Homo sapiens: one gene and its partners. The protein of the gene in region 4 interacts with the protein of the main gene of each other region in a pairwise test. Each region holds a gene or a part of one and is shown on either strand. Other genes may lie near its edges.

Evidence for each region.
Region 1: the proteins of BAG3 (region 4) and MLF2 interact in binary tests that used the Homo sapiens proteins (3 or more experiments, as listed by UniProt).
Region 2: the proteins of BAG3 (region 4) and GGN interact in binary tests that used the Homo sapiens proteins (3 or more experiments, as listed by UniProt).
Region 3: the proteins of BAG3 (region 4) and CTDSP1 interact in binary tests that used the Homo sapiens proteins (3 or more experiments, as listed by UniProt).

The regions. Positions count from the first base shown.
Region 1 is NC_000012.12:6,750,142-6,757,120, forward strand, and holds the start of MLF2 (myeloid leukemia factor 2), read right to left. Parts: upstream 3,001-6,979; 5' UTR 2,798-3,000; intron 2,776-2,797; exon of another isoform or gene 2,741-2,775; intron 2,222-2,740; 5' UTR 2,194-2,221; coding exon 2,144-2,193; intron 1,914-2,143; coding exon 1,784-1,913; intron 1,536-1,783; coding exon 1,500-1,535; intron 626-1,499; coding exon 572-625; intron 165-571; coding exon 36-164; intron 1-35.
Region 2 is NC_000019.10:38,385,018-38,391,941, forward strand, and holds the start of GGN (gametogenetin), read right to left. Parts: upstream 3,018-6,924; 5' UTR 2,958-3,017; intron 2,833-2,957; exon of another isoform or gene 2,806-2,832; 5' UTR 2,744-2,805; intron 2,264-2,743; 5' UTR 2,245-2,263; coding exon 404-2,244; intron 1-403. Other genes in the region: SPRED3 (sprouty-related, EVH1 domain-containing protein 3), read left to right, coding at 5,286-5,462. UniProt on the Homo sapiens protein: May be involved in spermatogenesis.
Region 3 is NC_000002.12:218,395,214-218,402,877, reverse strand, and holds the start of CTDSP1 (carboxy-terminal domain RNA polymerase II polypeptide A small phosphatase 1), read right to left. Parts: upstream 3,011-7,664; 5' UTR 2,788-3,010; coding exon 2,721-2,787; intron 2,476-2,720; exon of another isoform or gene 2,391-2,475; coding exon of another isoform or gene 1,925-2,390; intron 1,315-1,924; coding exon 1,166-1,314; intron 953-1,165; exon of another isoform or gene 768-952; coding exon 663-767; intron 530-662; coding exon 473-529; intron 233-472; exon of another isoform or gene 156-232; intron 1-155. UniProt on the Homo sapiens protein: Preferentially catalyzes the dephosphorylation of 'Ser-5' within the tandem 7 residue repeats in the C-terminal domain (CTD) of the largest RNA polymerase II subunit POLR2A.
Region 4 is NC_000010.11:119,654,375-119,661,394, reverse strand, and holds part of BAG3 (BAG family molecular chaperone regulator 3), read right to left. Parts: intron 1-7,020. UniProt on the Homo sapiens protein: Co-chaperone and adapter protein that connects different classes of molecular chaperones including heat shock proteins 70 (HSP70s), e.g. HSPA1A/HSP70 or HSPA8/HSC70, and small heat shock proteins (sHSPs), e.g. HSPB8.

The DNA of each region.
Region 1 (6,979 bases), on a different chromosome or scaffold from region 4:
TACCTTCTCTGGGACAGGAGGGCTCCCCAACTCACCCCGCCTGGTGCCGAGCGCATCTCTGATGTCTCTTGGTAGACCTTGGGGGCACCATCACCCGTATTGGAGTAGGAGATGACAGTGGAAGATGAGAAGGTCTGGCAATTGCCTCCAGCTGTCATGTGTTCCTGAGGACAGGGTAGGTAGGGGAGGGCTGAATGGGGAGGCATCACCCCTGGTGAAGGGATTTCACCCTTCAGCTGCCTGTTCTAGCCTGTATCTTTCTCACAAAATGCAAGAACTGAAAAAACATCAGGCCTCATCATTACCCTCCCAAATTCCTCTGAGTCCAACCACGAGCAAGAAGGACCTGAAGAGACAGGGCCTTAATTGTATGCTACGTAAGAGAGCTGCTGCCGGCTGCTTCAGGCAGGCATGACAGCAGGTACAGGGTCCCAAGGCTCTCTGGTTCAATTACTTTATCCAGTACTTTACCCTTCACTAGCATACTGTTTCCCTCTTGCCTTAGAGGATGCAAGGTGTTGTCAGCCATCACTGAGAGCAAGGCCGGGGAAGGGTATGGGGCAAGTCTCACCATGTTTCCAATCATGTCATTCATCATCCCAAACATGTCCATGAAACCACCCGACTGGAGGAAAGAGATGGAAAACAGAGTCAGGAAAGCAAAGTCAGTGTTCAGAGTTGATCCTGTTTAGGAACCCACAACCCACATGGCTGCACATTTCCTTTCTCTTCTTCCTTCACATCTAGCAAGTTCTCTTTCTCATTCTGTTAAAATAACCAGAATACTCATATTTCTCCTCCTGTGAACTGCTGACCCCTTCCTCAGTCTCTGTGACTGCTGTGATCCAATTTTCCTTCTCCTGCTTGCTATATTCCCCCCATCTTTAGGAAGCAAGCCAAAGTAATGGATTCTAAACTCTAAAGAGGTAAGGCATGAAATTGTTAAAACCTACCAAAAAATCATCTCTAGTTGGCCCTTTAACTGCACTTCCCTCCTCAAAAGAACAAATTTTGCTAGACAATTACATCTTCCTAATGCGTATGAACTTCTAGGAGTACAACAGTTAATAACATCTTTTCTTTTTTTTTTTTTTGAGATGGAGTCTGGCTCTGTTGCCCAGGCTGGAGGGCAGTGGCGCAGTCTCGGCTCACTGCAATCTCCACCTCCCGGATTCAAGAGTAGCTGGGACTACAGGTGTGTGCCACCATGCCTGGCTTTTTTGGTATTTTTAGTAGAGACGGGGTTTCACCATGTTGGCCAGTCTGGTCTCGAACTTCTGACTGCAAGTGATCACCCATCTCGGCCTCCCAACAAGAGTTTAACACCTTTAACCCACAGGGCTCCTAGTACCCAACAGGCTCAGAGCTTTGTGAATGCCATAAAAAGAGAAGATTCTGGGGTTACTCATGAAACTATTCCTAAGAGGCACATTTGGGAATAATATCTAAGGGTAGAGAGTGTGTCTGAGATGGAAGGACACAGGGAGATAAAGACTCACCATTCCCAGCATCCCAAAGGGGGAGACAGCTCCAGCCTACAGGAACACATGAGGAACAGAAATTAGAGACCACATCCTATCTCTTTACAATCCCAAACCAGGCCCATGGCCTCAATTTTTTTCCATCCTCTCAAAAGGGAGTCACAAAGCCCTTTTTCCTGACCCTTTCCCCAACTCCTAGAGCATTTCACTTGCTCAGTTGGCTGTAGTGCAAGAAAATTAAGTGCTTTCCTAACTAACCTCCAACCTTTCTTTGGGTCTCAGGTGTGTCTCAGCATCATTACCTGCTGCATCCGGCGGCTGGCAGGCCTGGTCCCTGGCATGTTGCCATCTGTGATGCTGAGGAAGGGGCTATATCCAAAGCCACCTGACAACATACGGCTCATATGCTGACGGTGAATAGCAAAGGGATCCCTGTGGAGTGAGCACATAGTATGGATGGCAGAAGCGCCAAACTGTCAATCCCTCCACCACCCTGCAAAAAAATACGCACAGAGCAACAGTGGCACCGATGCCTACTTCCTGCTAGGTAGGAGCTAGGTATCCAGCCAGTTCCAACCATTCCTAGCAATGGGAACCCCGATGTCTGCCTGAACTGCTCAGAGACCTGGAGTGGGAGAGCTTGAGGGGGAGGGAATACTCACATCAGGAACATGGGATCCTCAGGCTCCACGTCCCTCATGAAGCGGAACATCCTGATCTCAGCTCCAGGGGGCTCCACACTGGAAAGATATGGAAGCTCAGATACTTGGAGGTGGCCAGGGTTTTGCACACCCACTCAGTGTGGGGACTCTCAGAGCACTGTCCTTTCCAAATCCTGTAACTGACCCCCTAAACTCCAGGGAGACCCTACTCCAGGTGTTCCACACAACCCTCTAGGGAGGGAAGGGCTCTTCAAACCTCTTTCTCAATTAGGGCCATGGAAAATTTTTCCAACCCTCTCGGTTTTTCCCTCCCCCACTCAGAGCCATCCTCTTCCCAAAGCTCTGGCCGGTAGCATACTCTCCCCTCCTCCCGCCGACGACACCGTTCTAGATGAGAATGCCAAGTGCAGGTCCTCCGCCCCATTAATGACCCCAGTCACCCCGCCCCCTCCTTACACTCAGGCCTCCCCCAGGCGGGCCTCACTAAGCCCCCCGCGCCTGTCTGCGACTCCTCTAGCTCCCGCCTCCCCGCCAGGCGAGCAGGAGAGGTAGGCCTGAGCCTCTCCTCTCCCCACCCCGCATCCCGGGCTCCCAGACCCTGCAGCCCCGTGGGCCCGCTCCCGTCCGGGGCTGCCAGCTCTGCCCGAGCCTCACCAGTGCCCGATTCGGGCTCAGCGGCCCATCCGGCCGGTTTCGCTTCCCGGTACGCTGCAGGGTCAGGGTCGCGGCCCGGAACGTGGGGATTGGTCCGGGCTTGAGCTCCTCGGCCTTCCACGCCGCCTCCTCCCACAGCTGCCACCTCCGTACGGCCCCCTCGGCCAACGGAGCCCGAACCTCGGCCAGGCCCGGGCGGAAGTGACGTCACGATAGACCCGCCCACCCGGGGCCGGGCCGTGGGAGCCCCGCCCCCTGGCGCGGGTGGTGAGATGGCTGGGGCCGAGTCCCAGGGGCGCCGGGGCCATGGGCCAAGCTCAGGGGAGCAGAGCCTGAGGCCGAGAGGGGTCCCCTGGGCACGAAGAAGGGGAGCTCATTAGTAACCTCGATTTGGGTTCTGTGGACTGGAAGAGGCTCCCATAAGGCAGGGGAGGAGAAGGAGAAGAGGAATCCATTCTTCGGGAGGGACCGGGTTGGAGGTTGAACCTGGGGGCGCAGTGCAGCACGTTCTCTCTCCCTCCTCAAGGGGAAACTGGAGGACGAGGGGCAGATGCCCCTTGGGGAGAGGCGGGCGCTCTGTGGGCGACGAGGCGGGGCGGATCCCTGGGGGGAGCTTTAAGCCGACTCTACTGGAGAAGCAGTCTACCCTAGAGGGAGGATGGGCAGTTTTCCTGCGGGGGAGGCGCTTGGGCCTGTCCCCGCTTGAGGAGGAGCGTTCCTGGCAGGGCGGAGTCCCCGGAGTGACGCAGAGGAGGTGAAACTCTCCAGCCCAGATCTAGTTCGGGCTTCAGAAAGTCGGATGGGGCAGAGGATCCAGGTTGGGGGGTTGGCCGCCAGATGGCGCTCCTCGGCCAGGCTGGAACCGGAGGCCCTTGAGAACTCGCGTTGGAGAGGGACCTGGACCCTCCCCCGTTACCCATCTGTGAAGGGTTGGACTGGGGAAAGGCTACAGTTCTGAATCTATTAGTTTAATGCCACTCTCCCCTTCCTTTTACTCTAATTCTTGTGTCCTCAAGAGCTCCCAGTCCTGCACTGACCTTTCTTGGTTGCTTTCTTAGGTCAAAGGTCTAAAGTTTGGGGGAACAAAGGAGTGGAGAGCTCAGTTAACCTGGATCACCCAGGGGAGGAGCTAAAACGGGGCCCAGAAGACCTGCCTCCAAGGCCAGAGACTGATACTTTGACATACTAAATGTCTTGCATAAAATCTGGCTCTGCTGGAGAGAAGGGCCTTCCCCTTTGGGGTCAGGGCATTTGGACTGTCTAGGATGGACTTTAACCAGACTCATCCAAACTCCAGCTTTCCCTGGTTCTTTACTCTGGCTTTTAGCCATATTAGTGCTGTGTGGAGTCTGACCCAATGAGAAAGACTTGTTCCCAGTAATTCCCTGGGGGAGAAAGAGGGGGTCCCTGGTGACTCAGGAAAAGGTGCTAGGAACAGGGCTTCTCACGTTTCTTTGGACTTGATCATTATTAAAGAGGAAAAAACAATAATAGAGACAGGGAGCAGAGATAGATAATTAAGATATAAGCTGACAGACTGGCAAGTCAAAGGAAAACAGACAGAATACAAGTAAATTTGTTTTTCATTGCTATTTCTGGGGGAAGAGACTTAGTAAAATCTTCTGTCTTCCAGATCTCTGCACTTCCCACCATGCAACTTCCCCTTATCCTCTTGCCCCAAATGAAAGCAGTTTGACATGTGATCAAGAGTTGTCCCAGTAAAGGTTCTGTGGCTGAAACTTAACTAAAGAGATCCTATCCATTTTTTTTCTTTTGTCCTCTCCTCCTTCTAAAGCAAGTTCTTTATTGTCCAGCCAATCAACAAATGTTTAAGGCCTGGCGCAGTGGCTCACGCCTGTAATCCCAACACTTTGGGAGGCTGAGGCGGGCACATCACAAGATCAGGAGTTCGAGACCAGCCTGACCAACAAAGTGAAATCCAGTCTCTACTAAAAATACAAAAATTAGCTGGGCGTGGTGGCACATGTCTGTAATCCCAGCTACTCAGGAAGCTGAGGCAGGAGAATCGCTTGAACCCAGGAGATGGAGATTGCAGTGAGCCAAGATTGTGCCACTGCACTCCAGCCTGGGCGACAGTGAGACTCCGTCTCAAAACAACAACTACAACAAAAACGAAAATTAGCCGGGCATGGTAGCAAGCACCTGTAATCCCACAAGTAGGCTGAGGCAGGAGAATCACTTGAGCCTGGGAAGTGGAGGTTGCAGTGAGCCGAGATCACGCCATTGCACTCCAGCCTGGGGGATGGAGCGAGACTCTGTTCCAAAAAAAATAAAAATAAAAATAAAAAGCAAATGTTTAATGAGGCCTGGAACTGTCCTAGGTACATTGTATTAAGCATACATACAAAATATAAGACACGGTCTCTGCCAATTGAAGGCATACAGTCTTGTAGCCACCTTTTTCTTTTTTAGTTACCTGTTATCCGTTTTTTTGTTTTTTTTTTAATTAAATTGTAGAGATGGGGAGTTTCATCATGTTGCCCAGGCTGGTCTCAAACTCCTGAGCTCAAGTGATTCGCCCAAACTTGGCCTCCCAAAGTGCTGGGATTACAGACATGAACCACTGTGCTCAGCCACCTGCTATCCTTTACGTACCGCCTTTAGGTGCCTAGAGTCCTTTCTCTTCTTCCTTCCAAAACTTAAGAATCTGCTGGCCAGGCGCGGTAGCTCACGCCTGTAATCCCAGCACTTTGGGAGGCCGAGGTGGTTGGATCACTTGTGGTCAGGAGTTCGAGACTAGCCTGGCCAACCTGGCCAACATGGCAAAACCCTGTCTCTACTAAAAATACAAAAAAATTAGCCAGGCATAGTGGCACGTGCCTGTACTCCCAGCTACTTGGGAGGCTGAGGCATGAGAATCGCTTGAACCCAGCAGCAGAGGTTGCAATGAGCCGAGATCTTGCCACTGCACTCCAGCCTGGGCGACAGAGCAAGGCTCCGTCTCAATAAAAAAAAGAAAAAAAAAAAAGGAAATTGTTGGCCAGGCACAGTGACTCACACCTGTAATTCCAACACTTTGGGAAGCCAAGGCAGGAGGCTCGTTTGAGCCCTGGAGTTGGAGACCAGCCTGAGCAACATAGTGAGACGTTGTCTCTTCAGTAAAAAAAATTAGCCAGGTGTGGTGGTGTGTGCCTGTAGTCCCAGCTACTTGGGAGGCTGCGGTGGGAGGATTGCTTGAGCCATAATCACACCACTGCACTCCAGCCTGGGAGACAGAGCAAGGCCCTGTCTCTAAAAAAGAAAAAAAGAAAAAAAAAAAACCTCTTGAACAGGTGAGGATGAAAGAGCAAATGCAAGAGCCCATTTTCAGAGTTCTTGGAGACATACCATATAGGCAGTTGTCTACTCCAGGAATTAAAGGGATGTAATTTTGCAAGTAACCAGAGTTTGTGTCTGTCTTCCTTCTCCGGGTCTCTCCCTCTCCTTCATTTCCTTTCCTCTCTTCTCCTTCACTCTCTTCCTCTCTCCCTTCCTCCATCCCTCTTGTCTTTTCCCTCTCTCCCTCCCTCTTTTTTTTTTTTTTTTTTTTGAGACGGAGTCTCACTCTGTCGCCCAGGCTGGAGTGCAGTGGCACGATCTCGGCTCACTGCAAGCTCCGCCTCCCGGGTTCACGCCATTCTCCTACCTCAGCCTCCCGAGTAGCTGGGACTACAGGTGCCCGCACACCTGGCTAATTTTTTTATATTTTTAGTAGAGACAGGGTTTCACCGTGTTAGCCAGGATGGTCTTGATCTCCTGACCTCGTGATCTGCCCGCCTCAGCCTCCCAAAGTGCTGGGATTACAGGCATGAGCCACAGTGCCCGGCCCTTTCTTTCTTTATCTTTCTTTCTCTCTCTCTCTCTTTTTCCTTCCTCCCTCTCCTCTCCTCTTTTTCTTTCTTTCTTTTTCTTTCTTTCTTTTCTTCTCCTTCCTTCCTCTTTTTTTTTTTTTCAGAGTTTTGCTCTTGTTGCCCAGGCTGCAGTGCAAAGGCATGATCTCGGCGCACCACAACCTCCGCCTCCCAGCTTGGGTTCAAGTGATTCTCCTGCCTCAGCCTCCGGAGTAGCTGGGATTACAGGCATGTGCCACCACGCCTGACTAATTTTGCATTTTTAGTAGAGACAGGATTTCTCCATGTTGGTCAGGCTGGTCTCGAACTCCCTACTTCAGGTGATCTGCCC
Region 2 (6,924 bases), on a different chromosome or scaffold from region 4:
TTTAGTTCCAGGAAGACAGTCATCCCCTCACCCCCATCCCTGAGTGGCCTCGGACGTGGTCCTCCTTGATACCCTCAGGGACAGGGTCAAGGCAGTGTATAGGGTCAGGCCAGCTGGGACCAGCCTCCCTCTCTAATGGCTCCAAGAGAGGTACAGGAGGGCCAAGAGTCCACTTAGGGATTGGATGCCATAGGGCTGGGCCAGGGTGTCCCCCTTTCCCCGTCAAAGGTCAGCATGGGATCATGGGTCCTCTTGGTCCTGAAGGGTGGGAGCTCAGCTAGGTTTGAGATGTGGCAGAGATGAAGGCCACGGGTCATTCTAGGGTCAGGAAGCCAAAGGGCTGAGTAGGACTCTATCCAGCAGTCTGGGGTTCGGCACCCTCCTGTCCCTTCTCCCCTCTCACCAGGCAGAGACGTTGCGTGGCAGGCGGCGATGGCGTGGCTGGTGGTGGCAGTAACACTTGCAGGGACAGGAGTTAAGCACCTGGAAGGGCAGCCAGTGGCGCGCAGCGCGGGTGTTAGCTGCCCCAGTCTGAGAGGCCCCGCTGCCACCACCCCCTCCACCACTGCTGTCAGGCACGGTAGCTGTAGCTCGTTCGCGAGGACCATCTCCATGCAAGCCATCCTTACGGGTCGCGCCCCGGGCTGCACGGGAACCCTTGTTCCTGCGCGTGCGGGTCTTGATGGGCGCAGCCGCGGGTGCGGGCGCGGACACAGGCGGCGAGGGCTCAGCCACGGTGGGAGCTGGAGCCGGGGATGGGGCCGGGGCCTGGTCGGCGGCTAAGGCTGGGGGCAGAGCAGGGGCTGCGGTGGGAGCCAGGGCTGACTCCTTGTGGCCCAGACCCGGGGTGAGCGGGGGAGCCACCGGCAGCGGCGTTGGCTGGAGCGCTGGTGGCTGCAGTGTGGGCGGCGGTGTGGGCGGTGGCAGCGGTGGTAACTCCTGCAGGCCTGGAGGCCCCGGGCGCATGGGCTCGCCATTGGTGGGTGCTGGGAAGATGAACGTAGGCGGCGCCAGCAGGGCAGGTGCGGGCCTCCGGGGCCCGGGAGCTGAGTGTATCTGCTCTGGTGGTGGCGGAGGGGAGCCCCAAGGCCCAGAGAGTGCGGCCGCACGCCGTCGCGGCGCCCCGATGCCTCCGCCAGCCCCGTTGAAGCGGAAGTGGCGTTCAGGGCCGTCGGGAGCGCTAACCCAGTCGAATTTGGGCTTCGAGCCTGGGAAGGTGGTGTAGGGTGGCGGCGGTAGGGCCCGGGCTTGGGACGCAGGCGCCGAGGGAGGACCAGAGCACCCTTCGCCGTCTCCATCACCTCCCTCGGCTTCCTGTGCCCCTCGAGAAACCTCTCCCAAGGGGCGAGCGGCTCCAGGAGGCAGGGGCCCTTGCTTCAGGACCTCGGCGTAAGAGATGGCACCTGAGGCAGCAAAGAGGCCGCCGCCTCCGCCGCCCCCCAGCGAAGCTTTGGCTGCTAAGGAACTCGAGGCTGCCGGAGGGGCCAAAGAGGGCCTCGACTTGAAGGTGATTTTACACAGCAGGCTCAGACCGGACTCGGAATCCGCAGGCTGGGCCATTTCGCCTTCGCCCGCATGGGGAGGCGCCCCTCCGCGAGCCCTGCCGGCCGTCTGGCCCTGGTTGCGGGGCCCAGCCTGGCTTTCTGTCGGGGGTGAGGCGGGTGTGGCCAGAGCAGGAGTGATTCTGCGGTCCGCCGGCTGCCGTTCAGAAGGTAATGGTGGTGGCGGCTTCCAAGTCTCCAGGGGCGGCGGAAATTGGGATGGGGCCCTCGGGACAGTGTCCTTCACGGATAGTTGCCGGGGCGGCGGCGGCGGCTTCAGCGGGCGGAGGCTCGGAGGGTCGCCCTGGCCGCGATGGCTCGCCTCCAGCAGGCGGCGGATCCGGGGAACTGGAGTGCCCGCGGGCTTTTGCCATTTAGACGGGCCGGGCAGCAGAGTCCCCGCGGGGGCCGGGGGTGGTGCAGAGACCGCGGCCGCCTCTTCAGGAGGGGGCATCACTGGAGAGGGCCGTTCTAAGGTGAGGGGCAGGGTCGAGGGTGAGGCCTGGGGCTCCCGGGGTACCATGAGTCCCGGGGGTGTGGCGCTGCCAGGGAACCAGACACCCAGCCCACGAGTCAGGCGCATGGCCTGGGAGGTCATCTCGGGCTCCACCAGGGACGTCCGGCGGGAGTCGGGGGCGCGGTCCGAGGGCTGCACTTTTCGGGAGCCCCCGCCCGCGGATGGCTCCGACTGCAAGTTCCCCATTTCTGACGGAGCTCGGAGACTAGTCAGAAAAATTTACTCCAGTCAGCCTGCCAGGGCCGTGGGGACCCTACGAGGCTGGCTGTACTTGATCTAATGCGTCCGCACCGGCCCCGCCCCTGTTCTCCAAGATCCGATCAGGCCCAAGTCCTTAGGTCGCACTCCTGTTCCCCGACCTTCGACACTCACGCCTTCTTGCCCATGTCCCCAACACAGCTGCTGTTAAGATACTTCACTACCAGCCCCATTATGTACTAAGGTTCCATGCCTGTCCCCTTGGCTGGTCATGCTGATCCCTCAGTCCTCTCCTCTAACTCTCCGACTCCCCGCCTCTCTCTAGAGCACCTGGGTCCCGCCCTCTTCCCAGGCAGGGGCAGATCCTCAGGCCTCACCCCTAAACCTCTTCCCGCTCCAGGTCTACTAGCTGGCATCCACAGTCAAGCTCCACCCCTGTCCCCAAGCTCCGCCCTGGCCCCGCCTCCCCCCAGAGGAACCCACTCACCGAGTCCTCCAGCCGAGCAGAGTTCAGACCGCGGCGCCCTGGGCCCGGGGCAGGGCAGGGAACTGCCGTAGCAGAAAATAACCGAAAAGAACGGGGGTGCGGGTGAAGGCAAGTGGGCGAGACAACTAGGGCGGACCCCGAGATGTAGGCCCCGCCCCCGGAGCTCGAGGCCCCGCCCTCCTGCGAGCCCGCGGGAGCCCGGCCCCTTACGAACCTAGGTCTCCCCTTGAAATACTCCGAGGTCTTGTTCCTCGCCCCCAGGCCTTCTGGTTCTAAGCTCCACCCCTTTGGGTTGTTCTCCTTAGCCCCTCCCCTTTAGAATGTCCCGCCCCTCTCATTCCCTCCCGAGGCCCCGCCCACGCGAACACCGATGCGTCGCTCCTCCCCTTTGGACCTCTCATCTGCCCCGCCCCTAAGGCAATTTACCTCTAAGCTCCGCCTTTTTAAGACCCGGCAACATCGCTTCTCAAGACCCTCTCCTTCCCCCCGGGCGCCGAGAAGGCCCATCCACCGTGGGCCCGCCCCTTCGTGACGCACGCACTAGTCCTCGCCTGCAGCATCCAAACCTCCTTATACCCAGGCCCTCCAACCCCACCCACTTGTGAAGGCTCCCCTCTCGCCCCACCCCTTATCGAACTCTGCCAGGCACCCAAGCCACAGCGTAGACCACCACCTCTTTAGAACCTTGAGACCAGTCCCTGTCCCTGCCCCGTCCCCTCCTCATAGCATTAGAGACCAATGGCGCAGATGGGTGGAAAAGTGGGGGATCCCCTCTGGATCTTAAGAAAATGGGGGCTGGGGGGTTGCTCTCTGGAGCTAGTGCCGGGCTCTAGGACCCAGCAGGCAAGTAAGCCCGCCTCGCTCTTACCCCTCCCCCAAGCCGCCCCTTCCCCCCCCACCCGTCTTCCAGGTTCCCCCTCCCTCCCCCCTCGCCCCGGCTCCCGGTGCCCGTCTCCAGCGCCGCCGGAGCCAGCCAGGGAGCCGGAACGAAAAGGAGGAGGAGGAGGCCGCGTCGCCGCCGCTCGGAGCCCGGCCGGAGCCTCGCAGGCAGGTGCCGAGGGGGGCGAGGGGGCGGGGGCTGACAGACTGCCTGCCCCGATGAGGGGGCGGCCGTGACCGCGCTGCGCCTTCTGCCCACCCAGGCGCCCCCAAGGCCCCGGCTAGGAGGACTAGAGAGTGGGGACCCCCCAAACTGCGCGGCAGCCATTCAGGGTACCAGTCTTCATTTGTGGGGTCTGGACTTTCTCCGAGGATGCCCCATTCACAAAATTCCGTCCTGGACCCTCACCGTTGAGGAACGCTGAGGACCACTCCCCCCGGGGGACACAGGATGTGTGGGGAGCGTAGGCCACCCTGAAATGCCAGTGCCCCATTCCAGCTAGGCCCTGGGGGGACCCCTGCTCTCATTCCCTGCTTCACCTGTTGTCGGGGGAGGCGGGCGGACAAAGGAAGCAGCGTCACGTGACTGCTCATTCACAAAATCCCATCCCATTGAGAAAAGGGGGCTGGGGGCGCTGCAGCCGCCCCTTCCCCTCCTGAAGGGCCCGGGAAACCCAGCAGCCTGCAGGTGGGGGAGGGGGCTAGAGCTCGTCCGGGTCCCTAAGGTTGGGACGCCAGGGTCCCTGTGCTGGATGGCAGTGAAGGGCTGGACACTGATCCCGATTACTGGGCGGAGGGCTACGTCCTCTGAGCTGGGGGGCGGGGTAAAATGGTTCTGAAGGATGCTGGGGCTGGGGGGCGGGAAGGGAAGAGGGAGGAAGGATCAATCTGCCCCCCCATCCCATCTTTCCCCCCTGGCTTCCCTCGGCTGGGGCCTGGGGGAGCAGCCTTGATTTTTGTGAATGAAATGCTCTCTGGATGTGTCTTCGGTCGCCCGTTTCTGACTTCCTCTGCCTCCGTCTCCCTCTGAGCCTCTCTTTCTGGCCATTTCTGGTTCTCTCCCTGTTCCCTGCCCATCTCCCGTTGCTGGGTGACTCAGTGAGCTTTGCATCCGGTCTCATTCATAAATCCGGGAAGGGGTGGGTGGGGGGGAAAGAGCCTGGGTTTCTCACCCAGCCTGTGGCCTGGACGACAGGGTGCGGAGGCAGGGTTGGGAGAACAGGAGCTGAGTTGATGGGCCCAGAGAAAATATATATGCGCAGGCACCCAGCTGTGAGGGGGAGCACTGGGTGGGGCTGTGGGTATGTGCTGAGGGAGGAGAAGGGGGTGATAGGGATAAGCAGGAGGGGGAGGGAAGGGCAACACCAGGGCTATGGGGGTGGGGACGGAGAGATGGGGGAAAGGTGGGTACAGAGAGAAAGGGCAGACATGGAGAAGAAGATAGAGGTGAGAGAGAAGAGATGGCATGAGGAAGAAAGGAGCTGTGTGGAAGACGGTGGCCATGGGGTTGAAGGTGGGTATTGCTAGCTTAGGGTGCAGTGGACCTGGACGTGAGAGATGAAGTTGGAGGGGAGATGAGGGTTGAGGGAACATTCCATGGGAGAGCAGGGTTTGAGCTCATGACTGTGTTGTCCCTGTCCTTCCCCCCACCTCCTGCAGGTACATGGTGCGGGTCCGAGCTGTGGTGATGGCCCGAGATGACTCCAGTGGGGGCTGGCTGCCTGTGGGGGGCGGGGGCCTCAGCCAGGTGAGCGTGTGTCGGGTCCGAGGGGCCAGGCCCGAGGGGGGGGCCCGCCAGGGGCACTACGTCATCCACGGGGAACGCCTCCGGGACCAGAAAGTGAGCCACCCTGGGGCATGCGGGGAGGGTAGGGACCTGGGGAGGGAGGGGAGAGGGGCTGGCATGTGGAGCAGAGGTCAGGTTGCCTCCCAGCCTAGGAATCAAGCTGGGGTGTGAAGTTTGGGAGTGAATATCTGTCCTGTAGATAAGAGTTGGGAATTGCAGGATACATGGGGTGTTTGGAGGGTCCTGTCCACTGCCACTTCCAGCCAGACTATCCTCGCTGTCTCCCTGTACTGCTCCTCCTCCCCGCTCCAACCCCAGGCTGTTCCACAGGGGGCACTGCCCCCCCCCCCCCGCCCCGACTCACACCATGTCCCTCCTCTGCTCAAAACCCTCCATCTTGCTCAGAGATCCTTGCCACGAGGCCCTACACCACCTGGCCCCTGTCTGCCCTAAGTATAGTGAAGCATTTGCTGGGGTCCATTTGAAAGTGTCAGAGATGGTTGACAATTCTATACATGGGTTCATCAGGAATAACTGGGCTGTCGGGCACAATGTGGAGGGACAGTGTTGAATCAGTTTCAGCTAGGGATGTAGTAGAAAGATATGGATTGTGTGAAAGGCTTGGGGGAAAGGTTTTTTTTTTGGAGCAGGAGTCAGTGGAGGGATTTGAAATGGAGTGAAGGAATATGGTGATACTAGGCAAGGATTTGAGGGAACATCAATAGGGTGTTGGCTAGCATCTGAAGGGGAATCTGTGGAAGTCTGATAAGACTGTTTTGGAGTAAGTGCTGGCTGGGTACAGTGCCTATAATCCCAGCCACTCATGAGTCTGAGGCCGGAGGAATGCTTGAGTCCAGAGTTTGAGACCAGCCTGAGCAACACAGAGAGAGCTCATCTGGAAAAAAAAAAAAAAAAAGAGAGAGAGAATATTTTTTGGGTAAAGTTTCCAGAGATTATTATCAGAAGAGGATTCACAATAATATTGTGAGATGTTCAGTAAAGTCTGGGAAGTATTGTTGAGCCAGAGGGGGGATGTTGGGTTATCAGAAAGGGGTTAACAATGTTTTGGGCCATTCAGCAAGATTCGGGGTTTCTACAGGGGCATCAGAGGGAGGTATTAGGAAAATGTAGGGATCAAGGGGTTGGGAAAATATTTGAGCATCAGAGGTGTGTTCAGTAAAATTGGGCGTAGCTGGGTGTGGGGGTTCATGCCTGTAATCCCAGCACTTTGGGAGGCTGAGGCAGGAGGATCACTTGAGACTGGGAGGTTGATTCCGTAGTGAGCCCTGATCACACCACTGCACTCCAGCCTGGGTGACAGAGTAAGACTGTTTCAAAAAACAAAACAAGTAAAACTGGGGAGTCGTATCAGTGTTGATCAGAGTTCAGGGTTACACTTAGGGTTGGGAAATGAGGTTTGTGAGAAGACACTAGGGTATGCATGGGGGCTGGTGATGGACGAGACGTCACAGGCATGTCTGGGTTGGGGTATCTGACCCTGCTTTCCTTCTGCCCC
Region 3 (7,664 bases), on a different chromosome or scaffold from region 4:
CTGTACCCACCCCCCGCCAGAAAACGATCAAAACTTCCACTCCACTGGCCAGTCCTACCTCACGAGGTCCCTAATTCCCAATCCCTTCCCCTGCCTCAACCTCAGCCTAGTGCAGGAATCCAGGGGCAGCCCCCTCACCCCAAGGCTGCAGGGCACCGGTCCCCGAGCCAAGTAATGGAGAACAGGCTGGACAGCACACAACCTATCCTGAATTACTTGAACTGGGTCCCGGGCAGGGTGGGGCGAGGGAGCACAGCACGGGGGAGCCTAGAGGAGGAGCCCACTCTGCAGGCTTGGAGTCAGCACAAGCCCTTGAGGTTCTGTGTGACTTTGGGACAAGTCTCACACCCTCTCTGGGCCTCTGACATTCCACATGTATCCAATTCCCATCCGAGGCGCTCCGGATTGGTGGGAAGAGCCTAGGGTCTGGAGGCAGATGCCAAGCCCACCACTGCCTCTTCCTGGCCCTCACCTGGTGGACCACCCCATCAATCTCCACAGGGATGATGAAGTCCGCGTTGTTCACTGGCTGTGGGGGGAAAAGAGCTGCTGGAGTTGGAGGAGGAGCCCCAGGGCATGGGGTCCAGCACACACCTCCCTCCCAGGCCAGGGTGGGGGATGCCCCCCGAGACCCGGGCTGAGGGCTGTTGAGCAGGGCCCACCTTGAAGGAGCTGTGCACCAGGGTCTCGTCCAGGTCGATGACCACGCAGATCTTGTCTGAGTCCTGGGCCTTGGCCTCAGGGAGCAGGTATTGGACTGGGGTCTGCTGTAGGGAGGGCGGGGCTGGCTGGGGTGCCTCTCTCCGGGCCTGGTCCTTCCTCCCACGCAGGCTTCTCCCCCTAGCCGTCTCCAGAGGAACCCCAGGCCCCAGGAACAGATACTTCCCCCTTCCCAGCTTTGCCCCTGCCAGCTCTAGGGCTTGGGTAGGCCTCTTGGCTCTTTGAGACCTCTCTAAAAACCAAGGTAGGAAAAAGCTTCCACTTATGAGGGAGAATTCAGTTTCCCCACAGTGGGCAGGGCCTGGCAGGGGAGGCTGCCACCCTCCTACTCTGCACCTTTCAGGTCTGCAAGTCCATCCTGAAAAGCTCAGTCAGGAGCCCCTTCCCCTAAAGCCCTGAAGACTGAGTCCAGGTGCCCCCGTGGCCCCACCTGGCCCCCACGCACCTTAGGGATGGCGCCATTCTCCTCCACAAGCAGGGGCGCCCCGCTGTGAGCAGGCAGGGCCTCCCCATCATCCCGGCAGACACAGCAGAAGAGTGAGTGGAGGATGCCCCGGCTTCGGGGCTTCTGGGAAGCTGCTGACTTCTGGTCACCTGAAGTAGGGAGGCACAAGTTGGAGGCTCGGTGCACACTGGCCTGCAGAATCCTGCATGTGTGCCCAGGTGTGAACCCCTGAGCCAGGAGGATCTTGCCGTGGCCCCTTCATCCAGACACACGAAGGCAGCTCCTGACTTTCTCTGAAACGCCCCTGTCAGGGCTCCACAATCAACTGCAAGGCTCCTGCAGCTCCCAGACAAATAGGTCTAGCAGGTATTAAGGCGCCCACATAGGGAGTGCGTGGCCTGGAGAAGGAGGTCCTGGGGTGCTCTCTCCCTGCCTCTCACAGCCTCCATGACTGCTGCTGATCAGCCCCATTGCGGTGCCTCCTGACCCCACCTTACCTGAGCACCCCTGCTCAGGACAGCCAGGGCCTGGGACCCAGGGCAGTCCACCCCTGCCCTCCCTCCATCCTCTCCACCCCCGTGGGTACGAAGTCCTCACTGCGGCTGGGCCCAGAGGCAGGGGTGCAGTCCCGCGGCCTGGGGCCAGTGTCCAGTGGCCATCTGTTTGCCCTGCCCCGCCCAGACCTCCGACCTGGAGCCCAGCAGCCTGATTGACAGATACCCCTCCCACCCCACCCCCCTCCGGCCCCCTGCAACTAGCCTTTCCACCTTGCCCTCAGTTCCGGGGCAGCCAGACCCAGGCGAGGGTGGGCAGACCTGGGGGCAGCGTCCAGATCCTGAGGTCCACACGGGGAAAAGGAGAAGACAGACCCCCCCACCCCGGCCCAGCCACGCTGGGGGACGCAGCCTCGTCGGGGCGGCGAGGCTTTGCGGGGTGGTGCGTGCCCACTAGGCGCACGACTCTCCCCGCGGGCGCCAAGCGACTCTTGGAAGTGCCGGCCGTCCTCTCTGTGCCTCCGAGGGGGTCGGCGCCTCCACGCGTGACGCGAAGTTTGTGGGGAACGTAGCTGTGTGTTGGCGGGAGATCCCTCCAAGCCTCCCCAGCCTGCTGTCACCTCGGCGCCCCCTCCCAAGACCCTACCGGACCGCAGCCCGGGGGGGTGGGGGTGGGGGGTGGGGCGGAGTCTCAGCGGGTGGCCCATAGGCGCCCTCCTCAGCTCCCCCATCTCCCAGCCCCATTGGCGCCAATGGTGGGGGGGCGCCCATGCACCACGCAATGCCTGCCAGGAAACCCCCGAAGAGTTCCCTCTCTATTCCTGCCTCAGTTTCCTCACCTCGAGCGAACAGGAGCGCCCCAAAGGCGCCAGGCCCCGCCCCGCGTCTCTGAGCCTCCTCTGAGTTCAAACTCTCTCCCTGCTCCCTCTCGGGCTGGGAGCTTCGGGCACAGCTAAGGCGGCCGCCCGGGGCGGCGGCGGCGGCTCCCCTGGGGAAGATCCCGGCCCCTTCTCTCCTCCCACGGCGCCCCGGCTTCGGCCCCCTCCCCGCAGCCCCGGTACCTTTGCCCCGCAGCGGGCCCCGAGCCTCCTCCTTGCTGATCTGAGTAATGACGGCCGAGCTGTCCATGGGGCCGGGCGCGCTCCGCTCCGGCCGGACTCTGGCCCGGGCGCCCGGCCTCCCCCCCGGCTGGGGCCGGAATCGGGGCGCGGGGGGGAGGGGAGGGGTGGGAGGGAGGGATCCCCGCGAGCTCCGGAGGGGAGGGGAGCCAGGTTCTAGGGGGGAGGGGGAGGGAGGGGGCGCGGAGGAAACTTTGTTACAACATGGAGTTTCCTTCCCGCGAGGCGGATGCAAACATGGAACCCAGGCGCCGTTTCAAGGCTCCCCCTTAAAAGGGCAACGGCTTCGGCGTGACCTGGACTCGGCTGCGGCTTTCGCCACTTCTGGGACCGGCGCGGCTAGGCGGACTGGGAGGCGGGCCGGGCCGGGTTCCTGCCGCGCTCCAGGGGGCGTCGCCTCCCTTCCTGCCGCCCGCCGGCGGGGCTGAGTCTCTGCGGCTGCGTGGCAGGCCCGGCACCCGGCTCACCGTTCCAGGCCGCCGAGCGCCCTCGGCCAAGGCCCGCCCGCCGGGAGCGCCCACGCCGGGGAGTGCCCGAGTGCGGCGCGGCTCCACCTCTGCGTTTTCTGAAGACCCGGGACTAGAGGCTTCTCGGTTTCCTCGTTGAGGACTTGGAGATAGCACTACCTCATCTGTAAAATGGGTCTTCTCTCCTGTCTGGTGGTCGCAGAGATCACCTCGCAAGGACGTCAAGAGCCAGCGAAGGCTCTGCTGGCCCGAAACAGCTGTGCAAACCTCAGAATCACGCTCTTGAATGGGACGGTCGCCGCCCCCCGCAGCCCCAGGGCGAGGTGCCCCCGGTCTGTAGGACGTGAAATTCTAACTCTCTGCCCTGGGAAAGCCCCCTGCCGACCTCTCCCCACGGCCCCACCCGGGGCCCCGCACGTCTACCCGCCGCGCACGGGCCACCGCGCGTTCCCGCCTGAAGTTTTCGTACGCGCTGTTCCTTTCGCGTAGCCAAATTCCACCGACCTCGAGGAAATGCCACCTTCTCCAGGGGCCTTCCCAGACCCCCTCCCCTGCCCGCGGTCGACGGCCGCCCTGTGATTACTGGGGGTGCGGTGGGAGTCACTGGACTCGCTGCCGATCCTAGGAGCCCAGCACGGCGCCGCACGCGGTGGGCCCAAAGCCCGACCGTGGGGGACCTCAAACCAGAGGCCCTCAAGGCCCGTTCCACCCGGCCTGTGGCGCAGTGCTGGGCACTTGGGAACGGAGGTCCCTGTCTTCTCGCTGCAAGCCCCTCCGTGGTGCGCGCCGTGGGTCTGCGGGTTGGTCTTTTTCCTCGTTTATGAAGTTCTTTTCACTCGTCGTTACTATTTTGTAAGTTCACCATTTAAAAATTAATAATGCCAAGCCCGACAAACACCCCTCGGCACTTCCTCCCCTCCCCCTCTCCCGCGGGCCTCCGTGGCGGGGCGGGGCGGGCGCGTCCTGTCCCGTCCGGCCGCCGGGTGCGACGCGGCGCACGTCCGCCAGGCCCTGCCGAGGGGGAGCCGGGGAGGGGAGGCCCCGCGCGGGGGCCGGGAGGGGAAGGGAGGGGAGCGGCGTCTGCCAGAAGGCGCGGCGGCTTCGTGCGCTGAGGCTGGGAGTAGGGGCGGGAGGGGACTGTCGGGGACTGATACCCCGGTCCCCGGGCTGGATCCCTCGGCCCTCCTCCTGCTCCTGGGTAGCCCACGGGGCGGCCACCATTGCGCTTCATCACCGTGATCGCCACACGCTGCTGGCGTTTTCCTAGGCCTGCTCTGGCTGCGCCCCCTAATCTCATTTACCCCTTAGAACGGCCTCCTTCTTAACCCATTTCACAGATGAGGAAACTGAGTTTCAAGAAAGGAAGCGACGTGCTTCGGGTCTACCGGCAAGGGCAAAGGCGGGATTCCAGCCTGGGAGCGGGACATCTGTCTCCCCTGCGGTCCGGCCCCCTGGGTGGGGCCTCGGCTTTATCTCCGGATGCGGGGCCCTCATGACCCCAAAAGGAAGCGTGTGGCGAGGGACTGAGTGGAGTCGTGGCCTCGCCCTTGGCCTGGGTTGGGTGGCGCGCTTTCCTCTCCCTCTGTGAAGGGGGCTGGTACCTGGCCGGCTGTCCCCACACCCACCATTCCCAGACGCGCCATCCTGAGCTCACAGGATTCCTCAGGAATCCCCCACCTCCTCCACCCCATCTTATCGCCACTTCAAGCCGTTGCCCGTGCAGTTCTTTTCCCAGGGAGACCTAACTCCTCCTCCCAGGCTCCCAAAGCGGCAGAGGTAGCCGCGCCTTCTGCCTGGAGCCCTGGACTTATCTCCCCACGCCTGGGGCGGGTAGTTAGTTACGGAGTGAGCGAGAGGCCAGGATTGCGTGGGGGGAGGGGGGTCCTTCGAGTGTCCTCACTGTAGGGGTTGTCTACACCCAGCTGCCCTCTGTCTCTACAGGTGGAGGTCGCTTTATGCACTCTATTTTTTGTCTGTTTTATCATTCGCACCCCAGGAAAAATAAAATCATGGGGGCCACAAGTCAGAAACGGGGAGGGGCAGGAACGGGATTCAGCAAGGTGCTGTCTGGCACCTGTGGATTTGGAAGCGTCTCTTCCAACACAGTCCCTCAGTTTCCCCATCTGCCAAACAGGGCTGGTAAAAGCCCAACCCAGGGGGAGGCGGGGAGCCGTGCACAAAGTCGGGGTGCATTCAGCAGGCTCTTGGGGAGTGCCAAGTGCGACCACGCCCTCCCTGGGAGGCCTAAAGGGAGCTTCCAGAAGAGCAACTCTGCACCCCTCTTCCTGGAGGGTCGATTTGAGGCCAGGCTGGAAGAACCAGAGCTACTATGGGGGGAATGGGGGCAGCTCTAAGTAGACGCCTTCCAGTGTCCAAATGACTGACCTTGGCGCGACCTCATCACTAGCCCTTTGCCCAGGTCCTGGGTAGCCCTTTAGCCGGGTCTCCGTGTCTTCTTGACCAACCTGCCCATTACTCTGCCGTCCCCCGTCCTGCCCCACAAGATCTAAGACGTCCCCAGAAAGCTTCAGGTCTTGGCAGATGTGCACACACGTGCCCCCATGCTCCTGGCACTCTCATTCCTCCTGGGCTGTCCTGTCAACACTCCCCCCTACCGCCGACCCCCCCTTCAGCAAGATTCAGTCCCCTTCCCTGGCTGGCGTCACGGGCAGCGCCCTTCACCGCATCCTGCCACAGGGACTTGTTTGCACAGCTGTCTCCCGCCGCTGGAGTGTGGGGTCCTTGAGAACTGACATCTTTAATTCGGGACTTTGCCGCCCTCCCCAACTTGTAACACAGAGCCTGGCAGAGGACTGGCACTCAATGCCAAGAGGGGTGTGTAGGGGGTACAACGGGGGCACTTCCAGGAGGCTAAAGGATCTGGGAGATGCCTTTCTTCGCTAAACGTCCCCCATCCATCTCCTCCTTCAGCTGGCATGGACCCATCTTCTCCAGTGCCAAACCCAGAGGAGGCGGGCGGCCCTCTTGCCCAGGTACCCTCTGCAGCGCTTGCCCAGGTCGCACCAGACCGGTCCCATCTCTTCTCTCCTTGAGGGACCCACTCGCATCGTTGCCCTTTTAAGAAAGAGGAAATTCTTCTCATAAACAAGCGTCCGGACCTGAGCGCGGAGCCAGGCCGCCTGCCCTGCTGGGTCCCCAGGAAATCGGGGGTTCTTCCAGGTGCAACACCCGGCCCAGGTTCAACTCTAGGGAAAGGCCTGTTGGCCTCTCCTCGCTGCGGCCCTCCGCAGGTCCTGGGCTGGGGTCTGAGGGACCCGACGAGGCTGGAGGAGGGACTTGGGGGAGCCTAGAAACAGCCTAGGGAACGTCTATAAAGTGCAGCCCCTGAATGGGGCGAATGGGTGCCCAGCCGCTCCCTAAGGCAGAGGGGGCTCCCCGCCCACACAGCTTCCTCCCACCCACTCTCCCCGAAGGATTCTGGGGCCCCTGGCGCGAGCCCCGAGCGCCCGCCTCCCCGCGTCGTTCCGCCTGGCGGGGAGGGGTGAGGCCGGGGCGGGATGGCGGGCGTCGGGACCGTCTCTGCCCCTAGGGGGAGCAGTCAGCAGAGAGGGAGCGGTAACGGCGCGGCGTGGGAGTCGCGGCCGCCGGCTCCCCTGAGGAAACAGCAAATAATTTGGGCCTCAGAGGCACAGACTCTTGGGTTCCTTATGACCTGGTGCCTGACGGAGAAAGAAGTGCGCCGCCGTTTTACTGTCTGGAAAATGGGTTGCAGGCGGAACAGAAAGGCTGCGGCGAATAGGAGCGGACCAGACCCTGGTGTAGGGGTCTTCTGGATGCTTTAGAGACTTCGTGCCTTCCCGGTTCCCATTCCCTGCTCCTTTGGACGAGAAGGGAACTAGTATTTATTTAACTTTAATCAGGCCGGGTTTGGTGGCTCACGCCTGTAATTCCCAGCACTTTGGGAGACGGAGATGGGCGGATCACTTGAATCCAGCAGTTCGAGACCAGCCTGGCCAGCATGGCAAACCCCGTCTCTGCTGAAAATACACAAATTAGCTGGGCGTGGTGGCGCGCGCCACTCCCGGGGCTGAATAAAGAGAATCGCTTGAACCCAGAAGGTGGAGGTTGCAATGAGTTAAGATTGCGCCACTGCACTCCAGCCTTGGCAACAGAGGGAGACCCTTTCCCTGTCTCAAATAAATAAATAAATAGATAGATAGATAATTTAACATTCATCAGACACTATTTCAAGCTCCAGTTTGGAGCCTGTGTCCCGCCCAAGTCCTCAAGCCCTCACCCCACCCACCCTTGGGCTGTCAGGTCACGCCTGCAGGTGCTCAATAAATACCTTTTGAAATGTTTTTCGTTTGTTTGTTTTTGTCCCAAGTGCCAGACACTGTGTTAAAGTGCTTAACCTCCATGGCAAGGGTGGTGGTGTCTCCATTTTACAGATGAGGAC
Region 4 (7,020 bases):
CCCATATTTCCCAGGGGTTTTTGCAAGAGTTAAGTGAAATAAGGTACGAAATAAGGTACAAGTCTTTGTAAACTCTGAGCTGCTCTGTGCCCTAAACAATTGGGTTTCTTTTTCTTTCTTTCTTTCTTTTTTTTGGAGACTGAGTCTCGCTCTGTTGCCCAGGCTAGAGTGCAATGGCACAATCTCAGCTCACTGCAACCTCCGCCTCCCGAGTTCAAGCAATTCTCATGCCTCAGCCTCCCGAGTAGCTGGGATTACAGGCACCTGCCACCACGCCCAGCTAATTTTTGTTTTTGTTTTTGAGACGAAGATTCACTCTTATTGCCCAGACTGGAGTCCAAAGGCATGATCTCGGCTCACCACAACCTCTGCCTCCCGGGTTCAAGCGATTCTCCTGCCTCAGCCTCCTGAGTAGCTGGGATTACAGGCATGTGCCACCACACCCAGCTAATTTTGTATTTTTAGTAAAGATGGGGTTTCACCATGTTGGCCAGGATGGTCTCGAACTTCTGATCTCAAGTGATCTTCCTGCCTCAGCCTCCCAAAGTGCTGGGATGACAGCCGTGAGCCACCACGCCCAGCCACAATTGCATTTCTTTATTCCACAAATAGTTATTGATGGACTCAGCTTTTCTCCAGCACTAGCTGGTTGGGCTTACCGTTTACAAAGCCTAATTCTTTTTTTAAAAAAATATTTATTTATTTATTTATTTTAGAGACAAGGTCTCACTATGGGGCCCAGGCTGCTCTCGAACTCCCGGGCTCAAGTGATCCATCTGCCTCGGCCTCCCAAAGTGCTGGGATTACAGGTGTGAGCCACCGCGCCCTGTTCAACAAAGCCTAATTCTTTAGTCTGTCTCACCAAGTTGGTAGTAAGACAGTTAGAATTAGAAGCCCCTTTATCTGAGAGTCTTAAGAGGACTAATTAGCAAGGATGTCACTTTCTCTGCTTAAGACTTTATCTAAAGTTTCACAGCCTGGAAGCAAAGAGCCAAAGACAACTCTAGGGACCTGAGCCCTAAACGACCCACCTCTCCAACAGGCTGGGCCGCTGCTCTGGGGAAGAGGCCTGCTCTGCAGACAAACTCCTGGCTGAGCAGGGCGCCCAGCCGCACTGACTGTGGTTCCTTGACACATCTCCCTGAGGCCTAGAGAGAAAAGCCAGGCCAGGCTGGGGCACAGAAGGGTCCGCCTGGGAGCAGAACATCTGCTGGCGTCTCCTCAACATCCTCGATGGCCCCTCACCAGGGCACACGTCAGCCGTCTCCAGGCCAGGCACCATCCGCAGCTGCTGGTATTTCCCCTGCTGGGGGCACCTGAGTCAGCATCCAGCCTCCCTGCAGCCCCAGCCCTGCAGCCTGCCTCACGGGTTCCATGTGGCAGAGGTAGGAACTGGAATGTGGCCCAAGGTCACATGAAGTTAGCTTCAGGGCATGTTAGAACCTACCTACCTCTTCTTCAGGGGAAAAAAAAAAGAGCGGAGCCACCTGCTTTAATCAAGCCAAAGTCACAAATCACAGATGGAAACTATCTGAAATTTCCATCCCAGGAAGCAAACTCTGAATTTAGACAGAGTCAAGGAAAAGGACCTCTCTCAACTGCTACATTTCCATGCTAAATGGAATGGTCAGCCACCTGGCAAGTCCATCCTCCAGACACGACCCTACAAGTGCCTGTTAGGTCTCAGTGTACAGGACATCAGCGGACGTGTATTCTGTACAAAATACAATTTCCAAAAGAAAAACATCCTCAGTTCATCAGCTGCCATGCAGGCAAGGGGACCCTCTCTGATGGACGGTGAGACCCCTGAGTCCCGGGGGGGCTCTGCTCCCACCTGCAGTGGCTTCTCAAGCATTCGGTCCACAGCAGCCACACCCCCCAGAAGAGGGTGGTGGCACTTGGAAAACCCCTCCTTCCTTCCATCTGCGGTGACATTTACACCCCTGAGAGCTGGGTCCAGAAGAGCTGTGCAGGTAATCGGCCCCTCAGTAAGGTGGGCTGATGTCCCCCCTCACAGGCAGCGCTCCTAGCTCCTGCCTGGTACTTTGCGGCTGCACAGACACAGCTGAGGGAGACCCTCCCCTTGAGGAGCTGAGGCTGAGTAAAGCCAGCGCTCTACACAGCACAGTGGAGGACACAAGGACCCAGCCTATCTTGGGCAGAGGATGGGGAGATGCATCTATGGACGCATGGCGCAGGGTCTGGCAGCTGGGTCAAGGCTCCCGAAGGCCCCGCAGCTTCATCTGTTACTGTTCCTTTACATCCTCCACTCACAAGGGGCACGGGAAGCCCCAGGGAGGGCTCCAAGGGCCACCTGGACACTGGTCGGGGGAGTCAGCTACACTCCATACAAGGGGGATAAGAGGAGGCCTTGCTTCTAAGAAACAAGACCCCAGGCCTCTCTGAGAGCTGAAAGGCCCACGGACAGCCAGGACAGTCTGCTGTGTGGAGAGGCCACACACCTATCCACAAACACACTTCTACTCCACAGAGCAGGCTGCATATGTTTCCGGGAGTTCCACGCATGCATCAGTTCAGGCTTTGGGACGTTCGCCTCCCACACACCATCTTCCTTGATTCTCCCAACCCTGCTAACAGAAGTGTTGCTATGCCCACTTCACACAACGGGAGACTGAGGCTCAAGAAGGGTAAGTGCTTTGCCTAAGATCTCTAGAACCCAGGTTTGTCTGATGGTAAGGCCAGGTAGATGCTAACCTTTCTGCTACTCCTGTCACAGCTGTACACTGTGATAACATCCATGTGTCACTAACGTCTCCAAAACCTTCATCTCCCGGGGTAAAATGCAGCAGGAGAGGCAGCAGGAGAGAAAGGCTTCCATTTCGCCCAGCCACGCTCGGCTGAGGCTCAGACCTGGAACATTCAGTTCAAGTGTGCTCTGGGTCAGGGAGCCAGCGCTCCATGCTGAGTCATCAGGCCAGCCAGGCAGGGTACACGAGAGTGAGAGCACTCAGCTTAATTCTGAGTCACCACAGCCCCAAGACTGCAGGGACGCCCGGCATGGAGCGCTGTCAGAACCGGGGAAGACACCGTCCAACCCAGGAAGGAGTGCTAACCCCGCTGGGATGCTGGGGGTCTGAACTGACCCTGAAAGGGTGGGCCAGCGAAGGGGCTGGCTTTTCTTCTGCACATGAAGGGGCCTTCCCATCCTCCCACTGTATGAATTTTTAAACCATCCATTCATTTATTCATTCATTCAATGTCAAGGAAGAATTTTTTAAATAACTGAAAAAAATATATAATTCTACTTTAATAAACACTGAGGAAGATACTTTAAAACAGCAAACGTTTGTTCTCCAATTGAATGCTAAGGAATTTTCCGTAAAAAGTCTCCCCAGTTCACTGGGGCACAGCTCTGTGCTGGGAGCTCTTGGACAGCTGAGCTGTTTACAGGCTCCTGACGCACAGAGCTGGCACTCTGCGATTCTAGGCTTTTCTGAATTGACAGTGAATAAGAACCTTCACGTATACGGTGTCTGATCTTGCTGCCAGCCACACGAAAAAAAATTTTTAAGAGACTCTTTTCACAGTGCCAGGGGCTGCTCTCTGCACAGCTATGGAAGTAGGGTCTGGCTGCTGCCAGCTCCCAGCCTCTCCAGCCCTGCTGTAAGATGCTGTGTCATTGGGAGAAACAAAAAAGAGCTTCTCCAGACCTGTAAGGATGAACTTAGGGAATCAATACTGAAGTCCTTTGTGCAGAGAAGGCCATTCACAAAGTGACAAAAAGGAGCAGGCCTCTGGGGACCTTTAGGAGCCCAGGACAACTCTGCAGTTCTTAGGAACCAATGGAAGGCTTCCCGGGACACACCTGCATCCTTCACGGGCAGCTCTTCTGTATCTGCCTTCGCGCTCTGGGCAGGCCCATGTTCTACCCTTCTCCACAGTCACTCGTTCCATCTTTTCTGAGCCTGTGGACCCTGCCAGGCATCAAGAGGCAGCGATGAAGCACACAGACTCTGCCCCAGAACTCCTAACAGGGGTGTGACCCCAAGACAAAGCAGAAAAGTGCAGAGCTTAAGCAAAAAGATTCAAATTAAAATAATATGGGTTCCAGAAGAGAGACAGCCTGCTTCGGACCAGGGAGAGGCAGGACATGCTTTGTGGAGAACAGTCTCAAAGTGGGCAGACTTGTCCTCTATATGGCATTTAACACTGTGACTCGCACACTGTGGGCACTCAGTGAATTTCAGATGGGGTAAAGGAGTGAGTAAAGAGTCGGGCCCATCTCCTAAATCCAGACCCAGGTTCAAGAAACAGGCCAACATTTCTGATTAACTATACAAAGATGGACTCAGGGCTGTTTATCACCTCAAGCTGTGCCTGGGGAGTATAAAGCAGCCGTGCCTGGGGAGTATAAAGCAGCCAGGCCCGCTAAAGGCAAGTCTGTCTGTCACCCCTTCAGGAACTCAGATGGGGGTAAAGCCACAGAAGTCTTTCTGTTTATCACAGGCCAGGCACACTGCCTCTCCAAATCTGCTGTCCCATGTGTAAGACACTTCATAGTTTCTAGTTCAAAGAGCTGGTGAGGATTTAGAGATAAGGTTACCAAAAGCACCCACTCATATCTGGCACATATATATATATATGTGTGTGTGTTGACAGACAGAAAAATACTACATTCATTCCTCTCCCCCCAAATTCTTCCTAAGCTTTTGCAAGCTGCCTGGCTTCCTAAAAGGCTGCCAAGGTCCCAAAGATACCTTCATCGAAATACGTGACGACTTAGTAACACCAGATACCTCACATGGTATCACATGTGCCACATGATGCATACAGATGAATCCTGCACCTGCAAAACAAGGGGCTCTGGAGCCTGCCTCAGACGGCCGGCTGATGGGCATGGTGGCGCTCACCTATAATCCTAGCTACTTGGGAGGCTGAGGCAGGAGAATCGCTTGAACCCAGGAGACGGAGGTTGCAGTGAGCCAAGATCGCACTACGGCACCCCAGCCTGGGAGACAAAGTGCGACTCCGTCTCAAAAAAAAAAAAAAAAAAAAGAAGGCCAGCTGAGTCTATGCTCTGAGGCAGAAGCAGATCAGAGGTGTCTACTTGACTCACAACAAAAGGGAACCCAGGAGGGGCTGGAGAATAACACGGTCAAGTGTGACACAGGGTTCACTCGTGTTCGCCAGTGCCAGAGGGTCTCAAAGATCCTAATAAGCAAGGCCTTTGTCTTCAGTTTCTTCTGTAAGCTCTCTTAAACATTTAAGAGCAATATTAAAACAGCAAAACTTAAAGGAGAAAGAGTAGGTCTGGATGATGAATGGTTTTCTACTTTGGATGATAAACATCAGAACATCATTTTTAAATGTCAATAGAAAGTAATAAACATGTAGAGTGGTTTATATAAGGTGACTGTGTGTCATTCCAGAAACGAGGACAGCACTAAGCAAGCCTCATGGGTGGTATGAAGCTTTCTGACTCACAAGCAGCCCTGATAGCATCCAACAGTTAAGCCTTCCCAGCCCTGGCCAACGTCAAACGCTGCCGCAGGTCCTGTGTACAGGCTCCACCCTCATAAAGGGCAAATCTACCCTACAAAACGGGACAAATGATGTTCTCGGAGGTGCAGTCGGTTCTCATGTGAACAACACAGGCTGTTCTTCAGAGGGGAAAATGAAAGTCCTGGATGAGCTGGGCTCCAAGGCATCTGGCCATGCTGTTCATCTGCCCCCCAACAAATCACTTTCATGCAGTCGCACAGGAACTTGCTCAGCCACAACTGCAACTTGCTGGAAATACGAAGGAGAGAACGGCCACTCATTTCCTGATTGTGCTCCGCCTCTGCTAAGAGGCATAACAGCTTGCAATAGATCTGGAAAGAGCAAAACGATCTCATCTTTAAGAAAATTCAGGAGGCTCTGCTGAACCTTAAGCAAAATAAATGGGTCTCTCTACTTCAATCATAACTCGAAACATTTCCAGTGTTATCTGAAAGGATGTTTCTATCTCCCTGTCACAGTGCCTGAGTATAATCTGTTAAATGATTATGGTGAGATTCTGCCAGATGGGCAAGACAAAAAGAAAAGGCTCTGGCTTGCTTCTTCCTGGGGTCCAGGAAGATCTCTGGACCACCTCCCCACTCTCGCACTGCCAGCCACCCTGCCAGACTTTGCAAGGTGCTGTCTCGGCTCGCTTCCCATGTCATCCCCATATTCACACCTCCAGAAGCCCGCGTACCTGGGGAGTTTCCCCAAGAAGGAAAATGGAGGCTTGGGAAAATGCTCTGCAGGATAGATGTTCAGGAGGCACTAAGCCGCAGCTCCTCCTCCCCAAAATGGGATCACTGGCCATCCGTGGCTCCCACTGCCAGTGCAGCAGAATCAGAACCACCAAAAAAGCTTTCTGGACTTAATAGTTTTCTGGGCCCTACACTGAGCAATTCAGATTTGAACATGGGGTTGGGGCAGGGAGGCGATGAGACACAGCCACAATCTGTGTTCTTAACAGGACTCCCTGGAGAGTGCCAGACTGGTAACCCCCAAGATCCATGGAGCTAGAGCGGCCCTGCTCCATGAGGGAGGAAGGTCTCCCTCTCATCCCAAGGAGGCCTGGCGGGAACAGCACTCCAGAACATCCGGCCTCTGTTTATTCAGGGAGGAGCCTGGAGGAGTGGCTGCACCAGCACTGAATGCCATCCTCTGCCAGGAAAGGGCCTGGACTGGTATGAACTTGCCAAATTAGTGGGAAGCCCAAGTGTGCAGAAAATCAAAATCCAGGAAGACTGCAGGTGGGGAGGCCCAGCTGCTTAGAATGGGGCTGGATGAAGCCCAGCATCTTTGCCGGGAGCCGTCCTGCTTCAGCAATGACAGAAGATACTTGCTTTCGCTCTGCCCCTCTGTGAAAACAGGGAGTTGTCCTAACTACTTCAGGAGAAGGCGGAAGATCAACTGCAAGACGGCAGTAGAAGACGAAATAAAATACAAAGGTCTAGTCTTTTCTTTCCATTTTCTTACTAACGTGATTAAATTTTAAACATCCTGAAGCTGAGTCCTCCCCCA